Regions from separate parts of the Homo sapiens genome. Here all the other regions are linked to region 3. Evidence: fine-mapped expression QTL. A gene starts in region 3. Each other region holds a variant in brackets. All regions are shown on one strand. Distances are between the middles of the regions. Region 1 overlaps FAM20B (FAM20B glycosaminoglycan xylosylkinase). Region 2 has its middle 22 kb from the start of ABL2. Region 3 holds the start of ABL2 (ABL proto-oncogene 2, non-receptor tyrosine kinase). Region 4 overlaps ABL2 (ABL proto-oncogene 2, non-receptor tyrosine kinase).

The links. PIP is the estimated chance that this variant, and not a neighbour inherited with it, causes the effect. A credible set is the group of variants that fine-mapping cannot tell apart.
Region 1: its variant is the best candidate, but not a certain one, in a credible set for the expression of ABL2 in skeletal muscle (GTEx, PIP 0.60).
Region 2: its variant is the best candidate, but not a certain one, in a credible set for the expression of ABL2 in caudate (GTEx, PIP 0.64).
Region 4: its variant is the best candidate, but not a certain one, in a credible set for the expression of ABL2 in whole blood (INTERVAL, PIP 0.80).

The regions. Positions count from the first base shown.
Region 1 is chr1:179,049,297-179,055,251 of GRCh38, forward strand. FAM20B (FAM20B glycosaminoglycan xylosylkinase) reads left to right here. Exons shown (of 8, transcript NM_014864.4): 3 at 983-1,069; 4 at 5,233-5,342. Among named protein-coding and RNA genes, the nearest start is that of FAM20B, 26 kb to the left of the region's middle. The variant T/C (reference allele first, on the strand shown) is at 3,315.
Region 2 is chr1:179,249,086-179,255,040 of GRCh38, forward strand. No RefSeq gene overlaps it. Among named protein-coding and RNA genes, the nearest start is that of ABL2, 22 kb to the left of the region's middle. RefSeq lists a silencer at 1,411-1,583. The variant C/T (reference allele first, on the strand shown) is at 2,658.
Region 3 is chr1:179,226,753-179,232,707 of GRCh38, forward strand. ABL2 (ABL proto-oncogene 2, non-receptor tyrosine kinase) reads right to left here and starts at 2,925. Exons shown (of 12, transcript NM_007314.4): 1 at 2,489-2,925. The coding sequence starts at 2,645. RefSeq lists an enhancer at 2,219-2,975 and a silencer at 2,431-2,840.
Region 4 is chr1:179,158,276-179,164,230 of GRCh38, forward strand. All of the region lies in intron 1 of ABL2 (ABL proto-oncogene 2, non-receptor tyrosine kinase), which reads right to left. Among named protein-coding and RNA genes, the nearest start is that of ABL2, 68 kb to the right of the region's middle. The variant T/C (reference allele first, on the strand shown) is at 2,949.

The sequences.
Region 1 (5,955 bases), 180 kb before region 3:
AGAAAGGTTTTGCTCAAGCTTACCCAGTCAAGTAATGACAGCCACACCAACCTCCCACTGCCAGTCCAGGACTCCTTGTAGTACGTCATCATAAACTTAAAAAAAAAGAACAAGAATGGTTATTCAAACAACTTTTTTCAAAAGCGCTGTTGCCTTCCCATTAACAAAGATTGAGTTATATCAGACTATTTTCCCCCAAATTTAAATTTCTCTTATAAGCTTTGCCACAGCCATTCTGGTAAGCAAAAGTTTTTTGTTTTTTGAGACAGAGCCTCACTCTGTTGCCCAGGCTGGAGTGCAGTGGCACAGTCTCGGCTCACTGCAACCTCCGCCTCCCAGGTTCAAGCGATTCTCCTGACTCAGCCTCCTGAGCAGCTGGGATTACAGGCATTCACCACCACACCCAGGTAATTTTGGTGTTTTTTAGTAGAGATGGGGTTTCGCCATGTTGGCCAGGCTGTTCTCGAACTACCGACCTCAGGTGATCCACCCATCTTGGCCTGCCAAAGTGCTGGGATTACAGGTGTGAGCCACCGTGCCTGGCCAGCAAAAGTTTTAATTACACATTTTTCTTCATTTCTTCAGGTCAGTCTAATAAACATTTTAGTAGACATTTATTAAGCACCAACTATGTGCTTAACACTGTGCTGGCAATACAAAGACAGTCCTTGCCTTCCAGAAAACTACCTTTTATCTGTACTAAAACTACATCAAAAGCCCTTTAGTGGGGCAAAAATGACAGCTTCCATGTTTTATTCTTAGAATGATTGGTGACGTAGATAGAGAATTCTAGTTTCCTTCTCTACCTCATCTTCATTCCATCTACCGGCAATTCATGCTAATCCACAGTTGTTTGCAGGGTTGACAGAGAAGGTGACTATAGCAGAATCAGGCTTGCTAATGGGTGTATTCTACCACTTGTGCTGTCACCTGTTACTGGTGTAATCCACGTATACATCTGTGCTTCCCATTCACTTTGCAGGTATAGCCGAGACCATGTGGTGGAAGGGGAACCGTATGCTGGTTATGATAGACACAATGCAGAGGTAGCAGCCTTTCACTTGGACAGGTGCGTATGATCACAGCAGCTTATGTTCATTTTGTTTGCTTTCAAAAATCTTTCTTGGAGAGGACTCGTGGACTCCTTCAGAAGGATGCAACACTAATAAATAACTTGTTATCGATTTTAGATAGCTAATTGACTAGTTCCATTAAACTTGTATGAGTCTCATAATTTGGTTGGCACCAGGAATACTGAAGTATTTTACTTCCATGCTTCTTTAGGTCATTTCATTTCTGGCCTGCTCTGTTATTATCATCAGTGAAGATATTCTTGGTAAATAAACTTTGAACTTAAATCTCTGAATTGAACTGGTCGTTAATTGGGTCTAGCCATCCTGTTGTTTTGTTATGTATTTGTTTTAAGTAAGTAATGCTGACTTATTTCCATGTGCTGGAAACATATAGCATGAAATATGAGTTTTATTATTCTTTATACAAACTATGCACAGCTTCAAAAACCAGAATAATTACAAAAGGAAAGGGCCAGGCGTAGTGGCTCATGCCTGTAATCCCAACACTTTGGGAGGCCAAGGTGGGCAGATTGCATGAGCTCAGGAGTTCGAGACCAGCCTGGGCAACATGGTGAAACCCCGTCTCTACTAAAATACAAAAAATTAGCTGGGCGTGGTGACAGGCACCTGTAGTCCCAGCTTCTTGGGAGGCTGAGGCAGGAGAATCGCTTGAACCCAGGAGGCACAGCTTGCAGTGAGCCGAGATCGTGCCACTGCACTCCAGCCTGGGCGACAGAGCGAGACTCTGTCTTTAAAAAAAAAAAAAAAGGAAAGAAAATAGATGTGAATTATAAGTTTGTAAGTTAACTAGGAAAATTCTTTTTTTTTCTTTTTCAGCAGGTTACTAGTCAGGAACCTTGCAGCTGAACTGTCTGGTATCCCAGTTACTCTGCTGACCAGCTCTTTCATAAGGCCATATTGGCTGACTTTAAAAGAAACTGCTAACAATATTTGTTTTAAAAAATTAATTTATGACTGGATGCAGTGGCTCATACCTGTAATCCCAACACTTTAGGAGGCTGAGGTGGGCAGATCACTTGAGCCCAGGAGTTCAAGACCAGCCTGGACAACATGGAGAAGCCCCGTCTCTACTAAAAAAATACAAAAATTAGCTGAGTGTGGTGGCGTGTGCCTATAGTTCCAACTAGTGGGGAGGCTGAGGAGGGAGGATTGCTTGAGCCTGGGAGGTCGAGGCTGCAGTGAGCTGTGATCACACCACTGCACTCCAGCCTGAGCAACAGAGTGGGACCCTGTCTCAATAAAATAAAATAAAATAATAAATAAATTTTTTTTCTGAGACAGAGTCTCACTCTGTCCTCCAGACTGGAGTGCAGTAGCCTGATCTTGGCTTACTGCAACCTCGACGTCCTGGGTTCAAACAGTTATCCTGCCTCAGCCTACCGAGTAGCTGGGACTACAGGTACGCACCACCACACCCAGCTAATTTTTTGTATTTTTAGTAAACACGGGGTTTCACCATGTTGGCCAGGCTGGTCTGGAACTCCTGACTCGAGGTGATCCGCCCACCTCAGCCTCCCAAAGTGCTGGGATTACAGACGTGAGTCACCACGCCCAGCCTAAAAATGAATTTATAAGGAAACCAGAAAAAAAAAGGTGAAATGTTTGTCTTTTTCTGAATTAGGATTTTGTAAACATAAAAGCAATAACTTAAAAATCACAAATTCAATAGTCTTGACTAAATAAAATAATGAACTTATATAGCAAGAGACAAAATTTAAAAGCAAACAACAAACGGAGAAAACACTTGAATCTAATGTAATCTGAGTATTAATAGCCTTAATATGTGTTTATACAAATATTAATGGTCTTAATATGTGTTTATACAAACATATGTATGTTAAAACTCTATTAGAAAATGGGTTAAGAGTATAAACATTGTCAATTGCTAATAAATATGTGGGGTGGGGGGAGGTTCATCCTCACCAGAAATTTTTAAAAATTCAGATGAGATACTGTTTTTACCTGTTGAAAATGGCAAAGCTTAAAAAAAAGATAATACTTTATTGGGAGGAATACATTGAGATTCATATGCTGCTTATGGCATTGTTAATTGTTTCAGTCTTTTTGTTAAGAACCCTAGCATTATATATCAAAATTAAGGATAAATATATCAACATTAAGGAATGTTCATATCCTTTGAACAAATAACTGCTTTTTTATACACATATCTAAGACATTTCTAGGAACTACCCTAGAGAAAGAATACAAAATTCAAAGATA[T/C]ATATACAACAGTCTTAGCTGTAGCATTTTCAATAGTGGGAAAACTGGTTGTAACCTAAACATCTATTGATATGGAAAAGCTTAGATATGTGTGTACAATACCATGAATTTTTGCTGCCCCTTTTAAGACCTAGTGGTGGACAGTTGGATAAATCCTTCTCCTCACTTAATGGCACACTAGAATCAGGCTTTCCAAGACCTTATCTGTTTGCCTCTTTTCTTCGTCCCCAACTCCCTTCTTCCTATCCTGTTTGTTGGAAACCAACAGGCATAAAGTTCCTCATTTCTGTACCAGTGTTTTGTATTGCCCAACACACTAAGTTTTGTTGATATATATGTAAAGTGATATTTCATTGTTATTTCATTGTTATTTTGTATTTCCCCATTACTGGCAAAGTTTATCTTTTCACAGCAGGACACCTATTTGTTATCTTAGAGTATTTGTGTACTTTTGATGTTAACTAACTATAATGTTTCAGTTTGTGACTTGGGCTTTGGGAGTCTTGTATTTAAAAGTCCTTCCCTACCTCAAAGTCTGAAAGATGTTCTCTTGCCAGTCGCCCTGTCACTTTTGTTAAGTGCCACCGTAGCCAGCCTCAAGTGCCACAGTAACATTGCCCCTCAATGCTAAACTGGCTGCTGTTCTTGGGCTTGGCAATTTTCAATGGGAAGAAAAAATACTTCCCAATCTAGGCTGCGTTTGTAGTCCTAGGTACCAGGGAGGCTGAGGTGAGAGGATCACTTGAGCCCAGGAGTTCCAGGCTGCAGGGAGCTATGATCATGCCGCTGCACTCTGGCCTGATCAACAGAGTGAGACTCAAAAACCAACCACCCAAACAAACAAACAAACAAACAAACAAAACACACACAAAAAACCCTTCCCAACCTTTTCCATTTGTGGATCTTGATACTTTTCTGCTTTGGGTTGCTGTTTCTTCATTACAGTCAGATTTAACCACCTTCCCTTGCCTCTGGGGGTATCTCTGGATTTCTATGTTATTTTGACAAATCTGTTGATCTTGCCTTTGTGGCTTTTCTAAGACTGTGTTTAGGACAGAATCAGCAGCCCTAAACAATAGCCATTTGTAAAGGCTTTCTAATGACTGGGGAAAAGGTTCATGATACAATGATGAGTACAAAGCAAGATATAAAACTGCATACAATATAATCTCGATTGTATGTATATACGTAAGTGTGAGTGTGTGTTTATATACCCACACTTAAAGGGAAAGCATGCTTATATGCCAGAATGTCAGCACCTGTAATTATTTCTGGGTTGTGGAATCATAGGTGATTTTTATTTTCTTCATTGTAAATTTTCTGTGTGTTCCAAATTCTGCCCCTCCAACTTTTGTTCAGTTGGTGTATATTTTTTAGCCAGGAAATTTCATTTTTTTAAAATAAATCATTGTTTTCAACCTTTTAGATTATTAGAGATATCTTCAAATGTCTCTATATTTAATTTGCTCTGTGGGCTTAGCCTTTTAGATCAGTCTGCTTTTTTTTTTTTAACCAACATGCTGTTTTATTTAAAGATTTGAACCCATATATGAGTTTGGGTCCCATTTTTTTTCTAATACTTTCCTAAAATCTATTTTTAATTTTTATTATGAAAAAATTTCTATCATACAAAAGTAGAAAGAATAGTATAATGAGCCCATATACCCACTCTGTAGATTTAAAAAGTGTTCACATTTTATCAGATTTGTCTTATTCTTTTTGCTGAAATGTATATTAAAATAAATTATACACACCTTCACATTAAATTCCTAAATATATGTACCTCTAAAAAATTAGGTTTAGCTACTAGCTAAAAACCCTTTACACATTTGACATGATGAACTGTAATTTTTAAGACTGTTACTTAAAAAACATCCCCTAAGATTTTTCTCTTCTGTTCTTCAATCTTCCAAACCAGGATTCTGGGTTTCCACCGAGCCCCCTTGGTAGTTGGCAGATTTGTTAATCTTCGGACAGAGATCAAACCTGTCGCCACAGAGCAGCTGTTGAGCACCTTCCTAACTGTAGGTAAGAAGATTGTAGAGGACATTTATATAGGGGAATGATTAATAAGTTAAAATGGGGCATTGTTGAGCAAGCTGGCTCATGACTTTTAGGAATTGAAGAACTCAGTGGAATACAAAAGCAAATCAGACAACCAGCTCTCAGGTTATTTGGGAAAATGAATCTAAAGGAGATGGCAGGAAATTGAAATTTTCCTGTATACTTTGTGTTGTCTGTGACATAGGGAGTGAGGTCATTTAGTGATGGTGAAAGCAGGTGATTATTTCCTTCTGCTTTCTCTTAGAGCTATTAGTAAGTCTCAAACTCAGAATTTGGCCTAAATTGGTTATTGTTTGTATATCATTGGCTCAGTTGTTTTTACATATATAATATGTTTCCTCAGGAACTGTCTCCCATCTCCTTAGAATTGAGGAAATCTTAAGGCAACTCTTTAGGAGGCTCAGAAATTATTTTGTAAGGTTGTATTTGGACCTGGAAGATCAACAGGCCTACTCCTTCTGCAAGGGTTAACCTATAACTCATTGTGCCTGGAACTGGCTATGTTGCCCCTGGCCTCTGTTTTCCATTATCTTAACTCTGAGGTAAGAGATCTGAGCTAAAATTCTCACTCCTGTTG
Region 2 (5,955 bases), 22 kb after region 3:
CATTCATTCACTAAGTATTAAGCTCTTACTGTGTGCCAGCTGCTGTATCAGGGACTAAGGTAACAGCTGTAAAAAAGGCAGACAAAATTCCCTTCTCCTCAAGGAAACTGTAGTGTGGTTGGAGAATCCAGTAAAGAAAATTGACAATTAGAATATACTGTGCAATGAGTGCTAAAGAAGGGGAAATGACCTAAGAGCACAGAAGCAGGGCCAGGAAGGCTTCCCCCAACGTGGGAATCTGGAGGAAGGGGAAACAGAGGAAGGAAGCATTCTCCCCGCCCTAAGGAAGACCAGAGGGAGCATGGCACAGTGGGGAGCTGTGAAGTTTTCTATCACTTTTTTTTTCTAGCATTAGCAAATATTTGTGAGTGTTTGCTGTATGCTGAGTGATACAAGGAGCACAGAATAACTATGTGAGTGATTACAATACAGTGAGATTGGAAGACATAAGAACTCCAATTTCAGCTGGGCGCGGTGGCTCATGCCTGTAATCCCAGCAATTCGGGAGGCCGAGGCAGGCGGATCACAAGATCAGGAGTTTGAGACCAGCCTGGTCAACGTGGTGAAACCCTGCCTGTACTAAAAATACAAAAATTATTCAGGCATGGTGGCAGGTGCCTATAATCCCAGCTACTCGGGAGGCTGAGGCAGGAGGATTGCTTGAACCAGGTAGGCAGAGGTTGCAGTGAACTGAGATCACGCCACTGCACTCTAGCTTGGGCCACAGAGCAAGACTCCATCTTTTTTTTTTTTTTTTTTTTTTGAGACAAAGTTTCACTCTTGTTGCCCAGGCTGGAGTGCAATGGCGTGATCTCAGCTCACCGCAACTTCCGCCTCCTGGGTTCAAGCAATTCTCCTGCCTCAGCCTCCCGAGTAGCTGGGATTACAGGCATGTGCCACCACCCCTGGCTAATTTTGTATTTTTAGTAGAGATGGGGTTTCTCCATGTTGATCAGGCTGGTCGTGAACTCCCGGCCTCAGGTGATCCGCCCACCTCAGCCTCCCAAAGTGCTGGGATTACAGGCGCGAGCCACCGCGCCCGGCCTAGACTCCATCTTTAAAAATAAAAAAATATTGGGAGGCTGAGGCGGGCGAATTACCTGAGGTTGGGAGTTCCAGACCAGCCTGACCAACATGGAGAAACCCTGTCCCTACTAAAAATACAAAATTAACCGGGCATAGTGGTGCACACCTGTAATCCCAGCTACTCGGGAGGCTGAGGCAGGAGAATCACTTGAACCCAGGAGGCAGAGGTTTCAGTCAGCCGAGATCATGCCATTGCACTCCAGCCTGGGCAACAAGAGCAAAACTCCATCTCAAAAATAAATAAATAAATAAAATTAATCAGTCAATCAATCAATTGGGTGTGGTGGCATGCATCTGTAATCCCAGCTACTCAGGAGGCTGAGGCAAGAGAATCGCTTGAACCTGGGAGGTGGAGGTTGCAGTGAGCTGAGATCGTGCCACCGCACTCCAGCCTAGGTGACACAGTGAGACTCCATCACAAAAAAAAAAAAAAAAAAAAGTCCAATTTCAACACAGGAACAAAACACAGCATAAGAGATGTCACAACGGTGGAGATACAAATTCAGGTAATATTTTAAGTGACTTTGCTCATTGCTTTTATGTTCTGATTTTTTTTTTTAGATGGAGTCTCACTCACTCGCCCAAGCTGGAGTGCAGTGGCATGATATCGGCTCACTGCAACCTCCGCCTCTGGGGTTCAAGCCATTCTCCTGCCTCAGCCTCCCACATAGCTGGGATTACAGGTGCCCACCACCATGCTCGGCTAATTTTTGTATTTTTAGTAGAGACAGGGTTTCACCATGTTGGCCAGGCTGGTCTTGAATTCCTGACCTCAGGTGACCCACGGGCCTCGGCCTCCCAAAGTGCTGGGATTATAGGCATGAGCCATCATTCCCAGCCTGTTCTAACTTTTTTCATTTGGAAAAAACGTAAAGTTGTAGAAAAGTGTAATGAATACTCACATTTCTCCCCACTTAGATTTACCAACTGATGACCTCTTGCCACACCTGCTTTGTCTCTCTACATATGTATACACACATCTCCTTTTTGTTAAAACATTTGAAAGTAGGTTGCAGATGTCTTCCTACATTATTCTTAAATATCCCAGCTTGAATCTCCCAAGAACAGGAATACTGTCCTGCAGAAGCACAGGGTCCTAACACACTTAAGAAAATCAATATTAACTCAGTCACATCAACCAACATGCTCAAATTTCTTCACCTGTCCCAAATCCTTTTTTTTTTTTTTTTGAGATGGAGTTTTGCTCTTGTTGACCAGGCTGAAGTGCAGTGGCTCCATCTCAGCTCACTGCAACGTCCACCTCCTGGATTCAAGCCATTCATCTGCTTCAGCCTCCCACATAGCCAGGATTACAGGCGCCTACCACCATGCCCAGCTAATTATTGTATTTTTAGTAGAGAGGGGGGTTTCACCATGTTGGCTGGGCTGGTCTCGAACTCCTGATCTCAAGTGATCCACCTGCCTCCGCCTCCCAAAGTATTGGGATTACAGGCATAAGCCAGTGCGCCCAGCCCCCAAATTGTCTTTATGGCTCTTCTCCCAACTCATCACATTTAAAAGTTCTTCTGTACCCTTAATGTACTTCTACTGTGCCTGGAAAATAAATGTAA[C/T]GTCATTAGGTCTGTTTCTTCCCTTAAGATAAGCTATACTTTAATATTTATTCTAGTTAGACTTACTGGGTATGTGATTTATGATTTATGATTGGATCTGTGAAGAAAACAATTTGGAAAGCATTCCTGGAAAGGCTACACATCACAGTTAGCCTCTAGATGTCCTCCTTGGATAGAAGAAACCTGCAGCTAGTAGCTTAACAAGGACTTTTCCAGAGCAGTCACTATTGAGCAGATGCATTGTTCCCCAGTCAACATAGATGAAAGAGTTTAATAAATGCTTCAGAATTCCAAACTGAATATAAATAAGCTCAATTTATATGGTTCTCCAAACATTTGGCACACCTGAACAAGGTTGTAAGCTGGAAGAGCATGAGGATAAAAAATGAGGTTGACTGTCCTGTAATCCCAGCATTTTGGGAGGCCGAGGTGGGCAGATCACTTGAGAACTGGAGCTCGAGATCAGCCTGGCCAATGTGGTGAAACCATGTCTCTACTAAAAATATAAAAATTAACTGGGCGTGGTGGCGCATGCCTGTAACCCCAGCTACTTGGGAGGCTGAGGCACTAGAATCACTTGAACCCAGGAGGCAGAGGTTGCAGTAAGCCGAGATTGCACAAACTGCACTCCAGCCTGGGTGACAAAGTGAGCCTCCATCTCGGAAAAAACAAAACAAAACAAAACAGCAACAACAACAACACAGAAAGAAATGGCCAGCCATGGTGGCTCACACCTGTAATCCCAACACTTTGGGAGGCCAAGGCGGGCAGATCACCTGAGGTCAGGAGTTCGAGACCAGCCTGGCCAACATGGTGAAACCCCATCTGTACTAAAAATACAAAAATTAGCCGGGCACAGTGGCGGGAGCCTGTAATCCCAGCTACTCGGAGGCTGAGGCAGGAAAATCACTGGAGCCCAGGAAGCAGAGGTTGCAGTGAGCCGAGATAGATCGTGCCACTGCACTCTAGCCTGGGCGACAGAGTGAAACTGTGTCTCAAAAACAAAACAAAACAAAACAAAAAAACAGAAGTTGATAGGACAAAAAGAGACCAGGGTAAGTATTCACAGACTTGTTTCTGCCACTTTCAGCTCTTTTAAAGGGATATCTATATGACTCAATATTGTGCCTTTGTTATACTCATTAGTTAAATGGGCAGAGAAACAGAATGGAATGAGCCTAAATGAGAAGCCATACAGAAGATGTCTGACAGAAATTATTCCAAAAGTGAGAAGAAGAGACCCAGAAAGGATAGGAGTTTCCAAAGAGACAAAGAAGAGCAATTTAGGAGAGTAGTTTCTATGATGAGTGGGACTTTGGGGGGAGATTTATAGGGGATTATAGAATATGTTGTTGTGTTAGATGGTGCAGTTCTACTTTATCTTTCCTCATATTTATTCCAGTTATAATAATAATAATAATTTACTGAATAGTAATTACTGTGTCAGACACTATGCTAAGCACTTTGCATACATTATCTCATGTAATCCTAATAACAAACCTGTGACCTCTCATTATCCCCATTTTACAGTCAAGAAAACTTAGTCTAGAGAAGTTAAGCAGGTCATCCAAGGTCACCCAATTAGTAAATAGCAGAGCTAGCGGAGCAAGGATGTGGGTCTTGGCTGACTCCAGAGCTTGTGTTCTTACGTGTTTTGCTATATAACACGATCATTTGTCACTGACATGTGGGATCTGGAAGCATATGCGAAAGTGTAAAGAGGCCATGCAGCCTACTTCAGCCTACTTCCAGCTGAGGCTGGAGTTGCTACTATGACTTCTATGTCATCAAGCCCTTAACATTCCAGGGTTTTAGATAGTCCTTGCATATTTTCAGAAAGTAACCATTCCTATCACCATTTCTTCACTCACATAAGAAAAATGGTATACTCCTCTGTCTCTCTGTCTTTTCAAAGGCTGGCATTTTTCTTTCCCACTGTTATTCTTCGGGAAAAGAGCCATCCGTGAGAAAGTGGCTAACATGACCTCTGTATGATTCAGAGAAATGTGTCCACCACAACCGAGATAAACTCCTTGTCCAGTGTGGTAAGCATAAACTGACACTTCCTCATCAAAGATGCCCACCTTCTAATCTCTAGAACCTGAGAATATGTTATCTTACATGGTCAAATGGATTTTGTAGATGTGACTAAATTAAGGATCTTGAGATGGGGCGATAATCCTGCATTAGCCAATGGGCCCAAAGTAATCACATGAATCTTTTTTTTTTTTTGAAACAGTGTCTCATTCTGTCACCCAGACTGGAGGGCGGTGGTGCAATCTCAGCTCACTGCAACCTCTGCCTCCCAGGTTCAAGCACTTCTCCTGTCTCACCCTCCCGAGTAGCTGGGACTACAGGCGCACGCCACCACTCCTGGCTAATTTTTTTTGTATTTTAGTAGAGATGGGGTTTCACCATGTTGCCCAGGCTGGTCTCGAACTCCTGAGCTCAGTCTGCCCGCCTTGGCCTCCCAAAGTGCTAGGATTACAGGCATGATTCACCGTGCCCGGCAATCACATGAATCTTATAAGGGGAGGGACAGGATATTGAGAATAAGAAGAGGAGGTATGACGATGGAAACAGAGGCCTGGAATAAAGCAGGGTTACAAGCCAAGGAATGCAGGCCGCCTACAGAAGATGGAAAAGGCAAGAAAACAGGCTCTCCCCTAGAGCCTCCAGAATTCATTGCAGCAGCAATAGGAAATGAAATGAAAACACTTTGTATAGGGATACATGAAGCCATGCTTGCTACTCTATGTCCATGAACACATTTAGAGGTAGACTGACTCCAGAAACTCAGTCATAGCACAGACTGATTGGTGGTAGAGTTCCTCAGTAGGCCAACTCCTCTACACATAAAGGAAAAAAGAGTTCCCCAGATCTCTAATAATGGCTAAAATTCAGACTATTCAGCTGGGCATGGTGGCTCACACCTATAATCCCAGCACTTTGGGAGGCCGAGGTGGGCGGATTGCCTGAGGTCAGGAGTTTGAGACCAGCCTGGCCAACATGGTGAAACCCCATCTCTACTAAAAATACAAAAATTAGCCAGGCGTGGCAGTGCACATCTGTAATCTCAGCTACTCGGGAGGCTGAGGCAGCCTACTTGAGCCTGCCCCAGCCGAGATCACACTATTGCACTCCAGCCTTGGTGACAGAGTGAGACTCCATCTCAAAAAATAAATAAATTAATTAAAAAATCAGACTATTCCTATCCTGTGCCATGTACTGTCCTAAGAGTTTATGTCTACATTTAATCTTCACAATGTTACTGACAAAGCTGGTTCCAGCTGTCAGG
Region 3 (5,955 bases):
AAAAAGTTAAATAACTTGTCCCAGGTCACAAAGCTCATAAGCAGCCAAGCAAGGTTTCAAATCCAGGAAAAATGGGTCCAGAGTTCATGCCCTTAACAAATACTCCAAAGTGATCTCTCTTCTTTCATCCTCTATCAAATCATAAAGTCCTTTAAGTTCCAAAGGGCAGGGACTCTGTTATGTTCACAGCAACATTCCCACAATCCAGTACATAACAGGTGCTCAAAAAAAACCCTTGTTTGTTGAATGAATGAAAGGACCCTTGAAATTACTCCTCCCATTTCCACTGCCACCACTCAAGGCCAGTCTTTCAGGTAAAGACTAGCCAATCAGGTAAATGGATATAAACTTCTCTGCCAGATTTTCCATAACCCAGTCCCATCCAGCCTATCAAAATTTTCTTTCTACTGCTTCTTAATTAGAATCATAAAATCTTAAAACCAGAAAGTATCTTAGAGATCATCCAGTCCAACCTCCTCACTTTACAGATAAAGAAACCCAAAGATGGTGACTAAAATCACCCAGGCAGGTGGAGCCAGAACCAGAACTTGACTCTTCCAATTTTTGCTCTATGATCTTTTTCTTCCAACTCATAATGATGCTTCATTCCTGACAGCTGTCTCCTCACTAGCCCATCAACAAATTATATCTATTCCCATGTTCCCGTTCAAGTTGTTTCTTCTACCCAAATTGTTCTCCCTCTCCATAGATCCAAATCCTCAAAATGTCTTCCTATTCCATTCTTCATGACTTCCTCTTTCTTGGAAAATCTTACATACCGAATAAGATAGTAAAGCAAGAGGATCACCATTGCCTACTAGGCCAAGTTTAATGCATAGTAACACTTCCCACAAAGTGAAGCTTACTTGGATGATTTCTTCCCTGTAAACTACTAATCCATTCTTCCATCCTGTGTTTTAGGAAGTGATTTTAATAAAGATTAGCTCATATATCACCTTCATAAAGTGTTCATATACCCGAAAGAGACACTCAAGCACATCTTCAATAGGAGACATGTGGCCAGGCGCAGTGCCTCACGCCTGTAATCCCAGCACTTTGGGAGGCTGTGGCGGGTGGATCATGAGGTCAGGCGTTCGAGACCAGCCTGGCCAACATAGAGAAACCCCACCCTACTAAAAACACAAAAAATTAGCCGGGTGTGGTGGCGGGCGCCTGTAATCCCAGCTACTCCGAGGCTGAGGCAGGAGAATCGCTTGAACCTGGGAGGCAGAGGTTGCAGTGAGCCAAGATCACGCCACTGCACTCCAGCCTGGGCGACAGAATGAGACTCCGTCTCCAAAAAAAAAAAAAAAAAAAAAAGAGTTTGGGCCAGGAACGGTGGTGGCTCACACCCGTAATCCCAGCACTTTGAGAGGCCAAGGCAGGCAGATTACCTGATGTCAGGAGTATATGACAAAATCCCACCACCACCAAAAATACAAAAATTAGCCGGGCGTGGTGGTGCACACCTGCAGTTCCAGCTACTCGGGAGGCTGAGGCAGGAGAATCACTTGAACCCGGGAGGCAGAGATTGCAGTGAGCCGACATCCCGCCATTGCACTCCATCATGGGGACCAAAGCGAGACTCTGTCTCAAAAAAAACAAAAACAAAAACAAAACAAAAAAACAAGACAAAAAAAGTTTGGAGACAACTATTCTAAAAATACATTGACAATGAGATCAAAATAATAGGTTTCAGACTACAGGGAGCATACATACATGTATGTATGTATATGGGCACACGCACACACTACAAAGGAAAACTTGTTCATATCCTGACTGACGTCCTAACCATGCCCACCAACCTCTAGCCCTTGCCAGCAATCTCAGAATTGTGTGTCCTACTCTGAAGCATAGTACAGAGGCTTTGGCAAAGCCTTTCATTTCTAGTAAAAACGAAATACAAAACAAAATAAACCACAAAAGCATGTCAAAAGTGATAAGATGATGCTAACTTCATCTTCCCTACAGAAAAGCATTTGACACTGTCCACAGTTCACTATCCTGACACTGCTCATCACCTAACGTAAACACATACCTTGTACTCCACAATCTCCTGAAATTCAGTTCCCATTTCCCAATCCCTTAGGATACAACCCATTTCCCCTTCACTAACGACGGGTTTATGCTCCCACCTCTGGGACTGAGCTAATACTGCCCTTCATCCTTCCCTCTCCTGAAGCTGCCATTCACTTTCTTTCTGCAGCCGCATAGTCCCGTCCCAGAGTAGAGGACAGACCATCCAGGGTCCCCAAACCCACTTCTCTTTCCTTCTCCGCCCCCGGGATCTGCCAGCCAGGCTAGAGACGCGAGGGGGGAGGGGTGTGACTCGCCTCCCAGGACTGGACCAGATGGCAGCGGATTCCGCCCCCACTCTCAGGCACCTTCCACCCTCCGACCCCTCGGGCAGCCCGTCCGCCACCCACCCCGCCCCGACCCCACCCCCGGCCTCCCCCACGCTCTCATGCCGGCTCCCAGACACACTCACCATGCTGGGTGAAGATATTGAAGCCGGTCTCTGTGGTGCGCCCCGCCGGGTCCCGCCTGCGGCCGGAGGGCCTGGCTGCACTGCTGCCCCGGATCCCGCGGGGCTGAGGCTGCTGGAGCCCCGGAGCTTCCCCGACGCGGCCCACCTGCTGCCCCATCCCTGCTCTCGCGTACTCCCGCGCCCCCGCCGACCCCTGGTCACATTCCTCCTCGGCTCCGGCCTCGGGCTCCTGGCGCTGCTCCGGTCTCTCCCTCCCAGCCCAGGCCCTGGCCCTGAGTGGCTGGGCCACCGGCGGCTCCGCACCCGGCCTCCTCACGGCAGCCGCCGCGCTGCCTCCAGGCGACTCACAGATTCTGCTTTTCCCTCCTCCTGTCGCGGCTCCGCGCCCCCAACGCCGCCGCCGCCGCCGCCGCCACCGCCGCCGCCATCTTTAAACCACCGAGCGCTGGGAAAGCGTGGGACAGAGCGTCTCCCGCCCCCCGCCCCCCGCCCCCCGCCCGCCAGTCACCTCCGCCGCGGGGAAGGAGGGCTTCCCGGCTGCCGCCCCGCCCTGCCGCGCCGCGCCCCCCGTCCCCGCCCCCGCCTCCTCGCAGGGTGGGTCCCCCAGTGCCCACCTCATTTGCCGGCCACCGCTGCTTGAGGTCTTTCGTCCTCCGCGTCCTGTCGCCGCACCTCGGCGTCCCCCCCCTCAATCCGCCTCAGCCGACCCCCTCCCGCGTTCGGCTCCACACGCTACCGCCTTTGGGGTTGGTCGGTCTCCGGCCTTCCCCATCCCACCTCCACCTGTCAAATGAGTGAGTCGAGGGCTCAGTGCCACCGCGTGCGCAGCTCAGGTGCAGGCACAGGTGGGGCAGAAAAGCACAAGGCATTTATTTGGTCCTTGCCATCCAGTTAAGGAGCTCTAAAATACCCAGGGGGATCTCTTTTAAACACCCTTGTCAGCAGCAGGCCTCCAGTAAAAATTAAAATGGTATAAAATTTACAAGAAGAGAGTAAAATGCTACCTTATTTGATTTTAATTTTTGGAGATTATTTCATGATGTTAAATCGCACTGGCCTGGATTGTGTGCCTTCTATAGTCTCATTGGGGACGCAATTGTAGCCCCATTCCTCATATTATATTACCATGAATTCCTCTTGAACTCCTTTACCATCTCACCATATGTGAGTTTCTGTTTCCTTACAATGCCTGACAGTAAAGTTAATCTTCCCACTGGCATCCTTTATACACTGTGCACGTGGTCAGGTCTTCTTTTGATGACAAAGGAGAAAAAATATATATCTTTGACCCTGTTTCTGAGTCAGAACTTACTCATTTTAGCTTATGCAGTCTAAAGAGAGTGAATGAGGCAGAAAAGAAGCGTTTTATACATACACATATACTATATACAATTGACTCGCCATCCCCCTCTCCCACTGTGTTTACTTGCATCTTAATTCAATTTTTTTTAATTCTCAAATCTTGATCATTCTCCTGTTATTCTTTTGGCTTCCCAATTTGCTTTATAAAAAGTATCAGTTAATGGAGGTACTACACTGAAATTTTGCTTAAATTAGACAGGACGGGAGCCACTGCAAAGAAGGAACAAAACAACCACTGGAAATGTAGGGTTGGGAGAAGAGGTGGATGAAGCTCTCCTTTGCATATCTTTCCTGAACCAGGTTGACCTTAGATGAACCATCCACTGACGTAGATATTGCCTGTTGTAAAAGCACTATGAAATTATTCCATTGCCATCTAGGGTGTAGCCAGAAATAACTGAAATTAACTCCAAAATGGGAACGGAAACACTATGTGTAAACACTGGATAAAATATGAACTTTCCATTTGGATTAAAGTTTCCCTGTGTTTAAAATACCTGTCTTTTCTTCTAATTCCCAGTGTTTGCAACTACTGAAAAAAATTCATTCGAAAGGGATAAAGATGTCACAGAGCCGGAATTTGGTTTACTGTTTGATTTTTATTATGGGAGAAAATTTTAATTTGGGGATAATGGTTTGGTTTCTCTGCTAATTCATGCATACTATATAAAGATAGATGAATATATGGGTTGAACATCTCAAATCTGAAAATCCAAAATGCTGCAAAATTCGAAATTTTTTGAGCACCAATATGATGCCAGAGGTGGAACATTTCACGTAAGTACTTAACATAAACTTTGTTTCATGCACAAAATTTTTAAAATATTGTATTAAATTGCATTCAAGCTATGTGTATAAAGGTGTATATGAAACATAAATGAATTTTGTGTTTAGACTTGGGTCGCATGCCCAAGATATCTCATTATGTGTGTGTAAATATTCCCAAATCTGAAACACTTGTGGTCCGAACATTTCTGATAAGGGCTGCTCAGCCTGCAGTAGAGTGCAGTGGCTAAGGGCAGGGGCTCTGAAGCCAGACTGCTTGGGTTCATAACTTGGCCCTGATACTTATGGACTATTTGATCTGGGCAAAGTACATAACCTTTTTGTGTCTCAGTACATTATCTGTAAACTGATGATGATAACAAATAGTATCTACCTTATAGGAATATTGTGAAAATTAAATTAGTCAATATATATGTATAGTACTTAAAACAGTATTTGGCATATAACTGGTGTCATATATGCATATACTATTAATACAAAAAACATAATGGTTTTAGGTTTTACAAGCCTAACTTTTTCAAATTTTATATATATATATATATATAAATTTGAGCAATGGCCAGAGGCCAGCATAAAAGATCAGACACATCACCAACAGCAGTAAGGCGTGCTGAAGACACAGATACTCTTCATCCTCATCATCCTTATCACAGGAGCAACACCACTCTCTCCAGAAGGAAGGAGCTTGTGAGTAATGCCTCACCAATCCCTGACTTCACCAGTCTGCATTTCTAGGCTATTGCCATACTTTTTACAGTTTTACAGTATCTCTCATATCTACCTCTTCCCTTCATCTATATAAACAGCGTTATGTAAGACACAGTGTTAGCTTAGGCATCTCTGCGCTGGTTTCTCCCGCTACTAGCCCTTTCTTCCTAGAGATTCCTCACCTTTAGCACCAAGCAACTCACTCAAAGAAACTGCTTCTCTCATTGCTTTGACCACACTCTCCCTCTCATTCATTACGTACAAAGTCTTAAGTCTAAAATTTTCACCTAATGGGCCGGGCACAGTGGCTCATGTTTGTAATCCCAGCACTTTGGGAGGCCAAGGTGGGCGGATCACTTGAGGTCAGGAGTTTAAGACCAGTCAGGCCAATATGGTGAAACCCCGTCTCTACTAAAAATGCAAAAACTAGCCAATCGTGGGGGCGCGTGCCTGTAATCCCAGCTACTGGGGAACCTGAGGCAGGCGAATTGCTTGAGCCCAGGAGGCGGAAGTTGCAGTGACAGGAGATTGCGCCACTGCACCCCAGCCTAGGTGACAGAGGGAGTCTCTGTCTCAAAAATAAATAAATAAATAAATAAATAAACAAAATA
Region 4 (5,955 bases), 68 kb before region 3:
TAGAGAATGGGAGAGAAATAATACATAACAGGTGTTGAATACTTGGTTATATAAACCAGGTGCTTTACATATATTATAATGAACCCTCATGTTAACTCTGCTAAAAATATTATATTATCCCATTTCACAGATGAACAGACCATGTGGTAAGATGTAGAGATACAATTCTGGAATAGGATTTGGAATTCTGCCTCCTGGTTCAGAGATCAATTTTCTTGGACTATCACAACCAGAAAGTTTAAGGGACCCCCACAACCACCTGATTGTCTTTCTGCACTTACGTAGTGAAACTGGCCTCTGACCTAAGGCTAGAAACCAGTGACTAACGTAAGTCCTTTTCCATGATGAGGGAGTGGATGGTGAAGAATGAATTTAAGAAAACATAAAGCCAGACATGGGTAGCGCACACACACAAAAAGAACATTCCTTATGAATATAGATGCAAAAGTCCTCAATAAATTATTTAATACTAGCAAACCAAATCTAGCAGGATAATAAGATTATTTTACTATACCAACTATGATTTGTCCCTAGAGTGCAAGGTTAGTTCAACATATGGAAATCAATATATAATACAGCATATTAACAGAAAAGAGTCATGCCTTGTAGAACTTTCTAGTTGTACTTAATGAGAATATAATATCATCTCCCATTTATTGAGTACCTAACACATGTGAAGTGTGAGGCAATATGAAATTAATTTAATTATAATAATAGCTGCATGGCAGCTGTTATATTATGAGTATAAATCAGCAGTAGAGCATGGTGGTCAAGAGCATAGATGCCAGAGCCAGATTCCCTGGGTCTGAATACTAATTCTACCACTTACTACATCTGTGATCAAGTTAACAGCATTTCTTCAGTTTCCTCATCTAAAAGTGAACAGTATAACTTGGATGTAACCTAAATTCAACTTAATGTGAATAAAATACATGCTGTAAGTACAGATAACCTCTTTAATCTGTAATCCTTAGAACCTGTAGTCTAAGGTCAATCAGTTTTCCAATTCATAAAGAGGGTCTACACCACTGCTCCACAAGCAAGGTAACACATAGTAAAATAGTCACAGAACACATGAAGATTATCACAGCTTGCTGGTGAAGGAATAAGTAGTCCTACTCAACATATTGGCTCAAATATACTGACATCATTCCATAAACTATCGGCAACAGCTGTTTATGATGGGATTTCTGGTTCAGCTGATTTGTTGATTTTCTGACCATGAATTTAAGAGATACATCTGTTTAAGAAAGAGCTAGAAAATATGGTAGCCTGTCACTTCAAAATGTGTCGTTTTTGGTTGTTTTTGCAACTGTCATTACCTTGAAGACTTCCTAAAATTTTGATTAATAGCCATGGGCTGCTACACTGATTTATACTTGACCAATATAGACTAATACAGAATTTTATTAATCTCTCAAATACGGGTTTAAATGATGTAATGAAGTACAGGCTTTTCTGAAACTGCTTATATTAATACAAAATAATGTCTTATAAAAATACTTGTATAATGCTTATATATATAACTTGTATATATAACCTATATAAAACATAAAGGCTGGGTGTGGTGCCTCATGCCTGTAATCCCAGCACTTTGGGAGGCCAAGGTGGGCGTATCAACTGAGGTCAGGAGTTCAAGACTGGCCTGGCCAACGTGGTGAAACCCTGTCTCTATTAAAAATGCAAAAATTAGCTGGGTATGACGGCATGCACCTGTAGTCCCAGCTACAGGGAAGGCTGAGGCAGGAGAATTGCTTGAACCCGGAAGGTGGAAGTTGCAGTGAGCCAAGATGGCGCCACTGCACGCCAGCCTGGGTGACAGAGTGAGACTCCACCTCAAGAACCAAAACAAAAACATACATAACTTGTATTTTATATAACTTGTATACCATACTTATATAACTTCTATAATATTCATATAACTATTAATACTCATAAATATTAAGTATCTACTTCAGCCGGGGGTGGTGGCTTACATCTGCAATCCCAATTATTCACGAGGCTGAGGCAGGAGGATCACCTGAGGCCAGGAGTTCAAGACCAGCCTGGGCAACATAGTGAGACCCCATCTCTAAAAATAAAATAAATTTTAAAATAAAAAATAAAACATTTTGTAAAAGTATATACTTCTACATCATTCCTATATATCAAAATACCACTTAAGCTGAAATTCCAAACTTTTGGAACAAATATAAATATATAATTATTAGATTAGTATGTATACAATTAGTACATATCTACATTATCTAATTCTCGTAATAATCCTATCAGGTAAATAACTTGTCCAAGATTACACAGATTTGCTCCAATTTCCTTCATCTTCCTTATATATTTTATGATAAAAATTCATGCTTTGAAATACTGAGATATGAGTCTTTTAAAAATATCTTAGTTATATTCTTAATAATAAGACAAACATTATGTACCATATATGACAATTCATAATTTTCCAAATGTAATCATTTAAGCCAGGGTTTTTCAACCATGACACTATTGACATTTGGAGCCAAATAATTCTGTGTGGCGAGGCAGTGGGGGACATGAAAAGATGTTCAACAGCCATTAAGAAAATACAAATTAAAACCACAATGAGATACCACTACAAGCACAAGCCACCACACCTGGCTAGTTTTTTCATTTTTTGTAGAGACAGGGTCTCTGTTGCAAAGGCTGGTCTCAAACACCTGGCCTCAAGCAATCCTCCCACCTCGGCCTCCCAAAGTGCTGGGATTATAGGTGTGAGCCACCATGCCCAGCCTGCATTTCTAATATCATTCAGAGGTGATACCAATGCTAGTAGTCTAGGGACCAAACTGCCTAGAACTTCCTATACAAATAGGGATAAAGGGTCATTAACAGAGAACATTTTTTCTTTAAAAAAAGCAAAAGACTTGATAAGCTACATACCCCTCTCAAGGTATGAATTACAGTATTTTTATAATGCTAAT[T/C]TTCAAGATTTAAGCCTGGCACAATAGTGCCCATCTGTAATTCCAGCTTCTTGGGAGGCTCAGGTAGGAGGATCACTTGAACTCAGGAGTTCAAGACTAGCCTGGACAACACAGGGATACCCTACCTCAAAAGAAAAAAAAAAAAAAGGAAAAACAGATTTAAAAACTAAATGATACCATGCATGAATATGTTTGATAAATAATGAGTACTTGGCCAGGTGTGGCGGCTCACACCTGTAATTCTGGCACTTTGGGAGACCAAGGTGGTAAAATCTCTGGAGTTTATGATCAGCCTGGGCAACATAGTGAGACCTCATCTCTACAAAAAATGAATAAAATCAGCTAGGCGTGGTGGCGCGTGCCTGTAGTCCAAACTACTCTAGAGGCTGAGACAGGAGGATTGCTTCAGGCTGAGAGATCAAGGCTGCAGTCAGCTGAGACTGTGCTAATGTACTCCAGCCTGGATGACACAGCGAGACCCTCTCTCAATAAAGAAATAACGAGTACTTATCAGGTGCCATACTGAGGTAACATGCTGCTGTGGTTTGAATGTGTCCCCCAAAGTTTGTATGTTAGAAACTTGATCCTCAATGCAACAGTGCTGGGAGATGGGGCCTAATGGGAGGTGTTTAGGACATGACGGCTCTACCCTCATAAATGGATTAATGTCAATATAAAATAGCTTGAGGCTGAGAGTTCAACCCCTCGTGCTCTCTTTCTCACTCTCTTTGCCCTTCCACCAGGTGATGTCTTCTGCCATGATGCAGCAAGACAGATGCCGGCCCGTTGATCTTGGACCTCCCAGCCTCCAGAACTCTGAGAAATGAATTTCTGTTCATTATAATTACCCAGTCTCAAGTATTCTGTTATAGCAACGCAAAATGGACTAACACACATGCTGAATGAGTCAATATTTCCCAAAGTGTGTTTCATAAAAGTAGGCTAAATAGATGTCACAAGTCAAGTGTTCCATAGTCAAATAAGATTGGAAAATGCTGAATATAACAAGTCCAACAATAAAGAAATGGCTAACTTATAAAAGCCATTAATATATTCACGTTCCTAGAAACCATCCAAAAGATAGCTAGAGGTGGCTCACACCTGTAATCCTAGCACTTCGGGAGGCCAAGGCAGGCAGATCACCTGAAGTCAGGAACTCAAGACCAGCTGGGCCAATATGGCGAAACCCCTTCTCTACTAAAAATACAAAAATTAGCCGGGCATGGTGGTACACGTCTGTAACCGCAGCTACCTGGGAGACTGAGGCAGGAGAATTGCTTGAACCCAGGAGGCAAAGGTTGCAGTGAGCCGAGATCAAGCCACTGCATTCCAGCCTGGGCAACAGAGCGAGACTCTGTTTTTAAAAAAAATTAAAAAATAAATTTAAAAAACCCCAAAAAATAGCTAGAGCATGTAATGTATCTCAGATTTCTTTTCTCACAGATATTCTTTTCACTAAGCATCTCAGAAGACTAGTATTATAGGGAATGGACTCTTGAGATAAGAACTGAGAGGAAAAAGAAAGGTTTAAATACAGCTATGTATCAAGCACTTCATATACATCATTTAAAATTATCTAATTCTCACAATAATCCTATCAAGTAATTAACTTGTCTGAGATCACAAGGTGAATTATAGCAGAACCCACATTTAAAACCTAGCCAACAGTATGTCTCTGAAGTCCTGCAACATTGTCTTTTTAATAAGAAAAAAATATCAAAGAGAGTCCTATGGGGTGTGGTGGAAAGGAAAGAAAATAAGAAAAGCAATGGGAACAAGAAACATTACTGTTGGTACAAAGCCCAAGCAAAAATGAGTTGAGGCTCTAACAACCCATTTAAAAACCAAAAGAGAACTTGAACAGACATTTCACCAAAAAGGTTATACAAATAGCAAATAAGCACATGAAAAGATGTTCAACAGCCATTAAGAAAATACAAATTAAAACCACAATGAGACACCACTATATGCCTATTGGAATGGCTAAGACAGAAAATACTGACATCAAGTGCTGACAAGCAAGCAGACCAACTGGAACTCTTACATGTTGCTGAGGGGAACACAAAATGGTGTAGCCACTCTGGAAAGCAGTTGGGCAGTTTGTTATAAAGTCAAACACTTACCATAGGACCTGGCAATCCCATTCTTGAGTATTTACACTGGAAAAATGGAAACTTAAGTTCACACAAAAACCTGAACACAAATGTTTATGGCAGCTCTATTGAAAATTGTCCCAAACTGGGCCAGGCGCAGTGGCTAACACCTGTAACCCCAGCACTTTGGGAGGATGAGGCGGGTGGATCACTTGCGGTCAGGAGTTCGAGAACAGCCTGGCTAACATGGTGAAACCCTGTCTCTACTAAAAATACAAAAATTAGCTGGGCATTGTGGCAGGTACCTGTAATCCCAGTGACTTGAGAGGCTGAGGCAGGAGAATCGCTTGAACCCAGGAGGCGGAGGTTGCAGTGAGCTGTGATCGCGCCACCGCACTCCAGTCTGGATGACAGAGTGAGACTCCGTCTCAAAAAAACAAAAAAAGAAAAGAAAATTGTCCCAAACTGAAAGCAACTTAAATGTCCTTCAGTGAATGAAGGGATAAACAAGGTGTGGTACACATCCATACTATGGAATACCACTCAACAATACAAAGGAATGAAGTATTGATAGACACAAGTTGGATGAATCTCAAAGGCATTTTGCTGAGTCTCCCACAGAAGCCAATCTCAAAAGATCTCATACTATATGATTCTAGCTCTATGACACTGCTGAAAGACAAAACTCTAGTGGTGGAGAACACATCAGTGGCTGCCAGGGATTAAAGGGGGGGAATATGTGACTACAGAGGGATTGCATGAGACAGTCTTTTGGGGTGATGAAACTGTTCCGCTGTTTGTGGGGTTATGCGAATTTACATGTGTTAAAATTCACAGAACCGTACAATAAACCAACAAAATCCATTTTACTGTGTGACGATTTTTTAAATTAAGAGAAAAAAAGCAGAAAATGT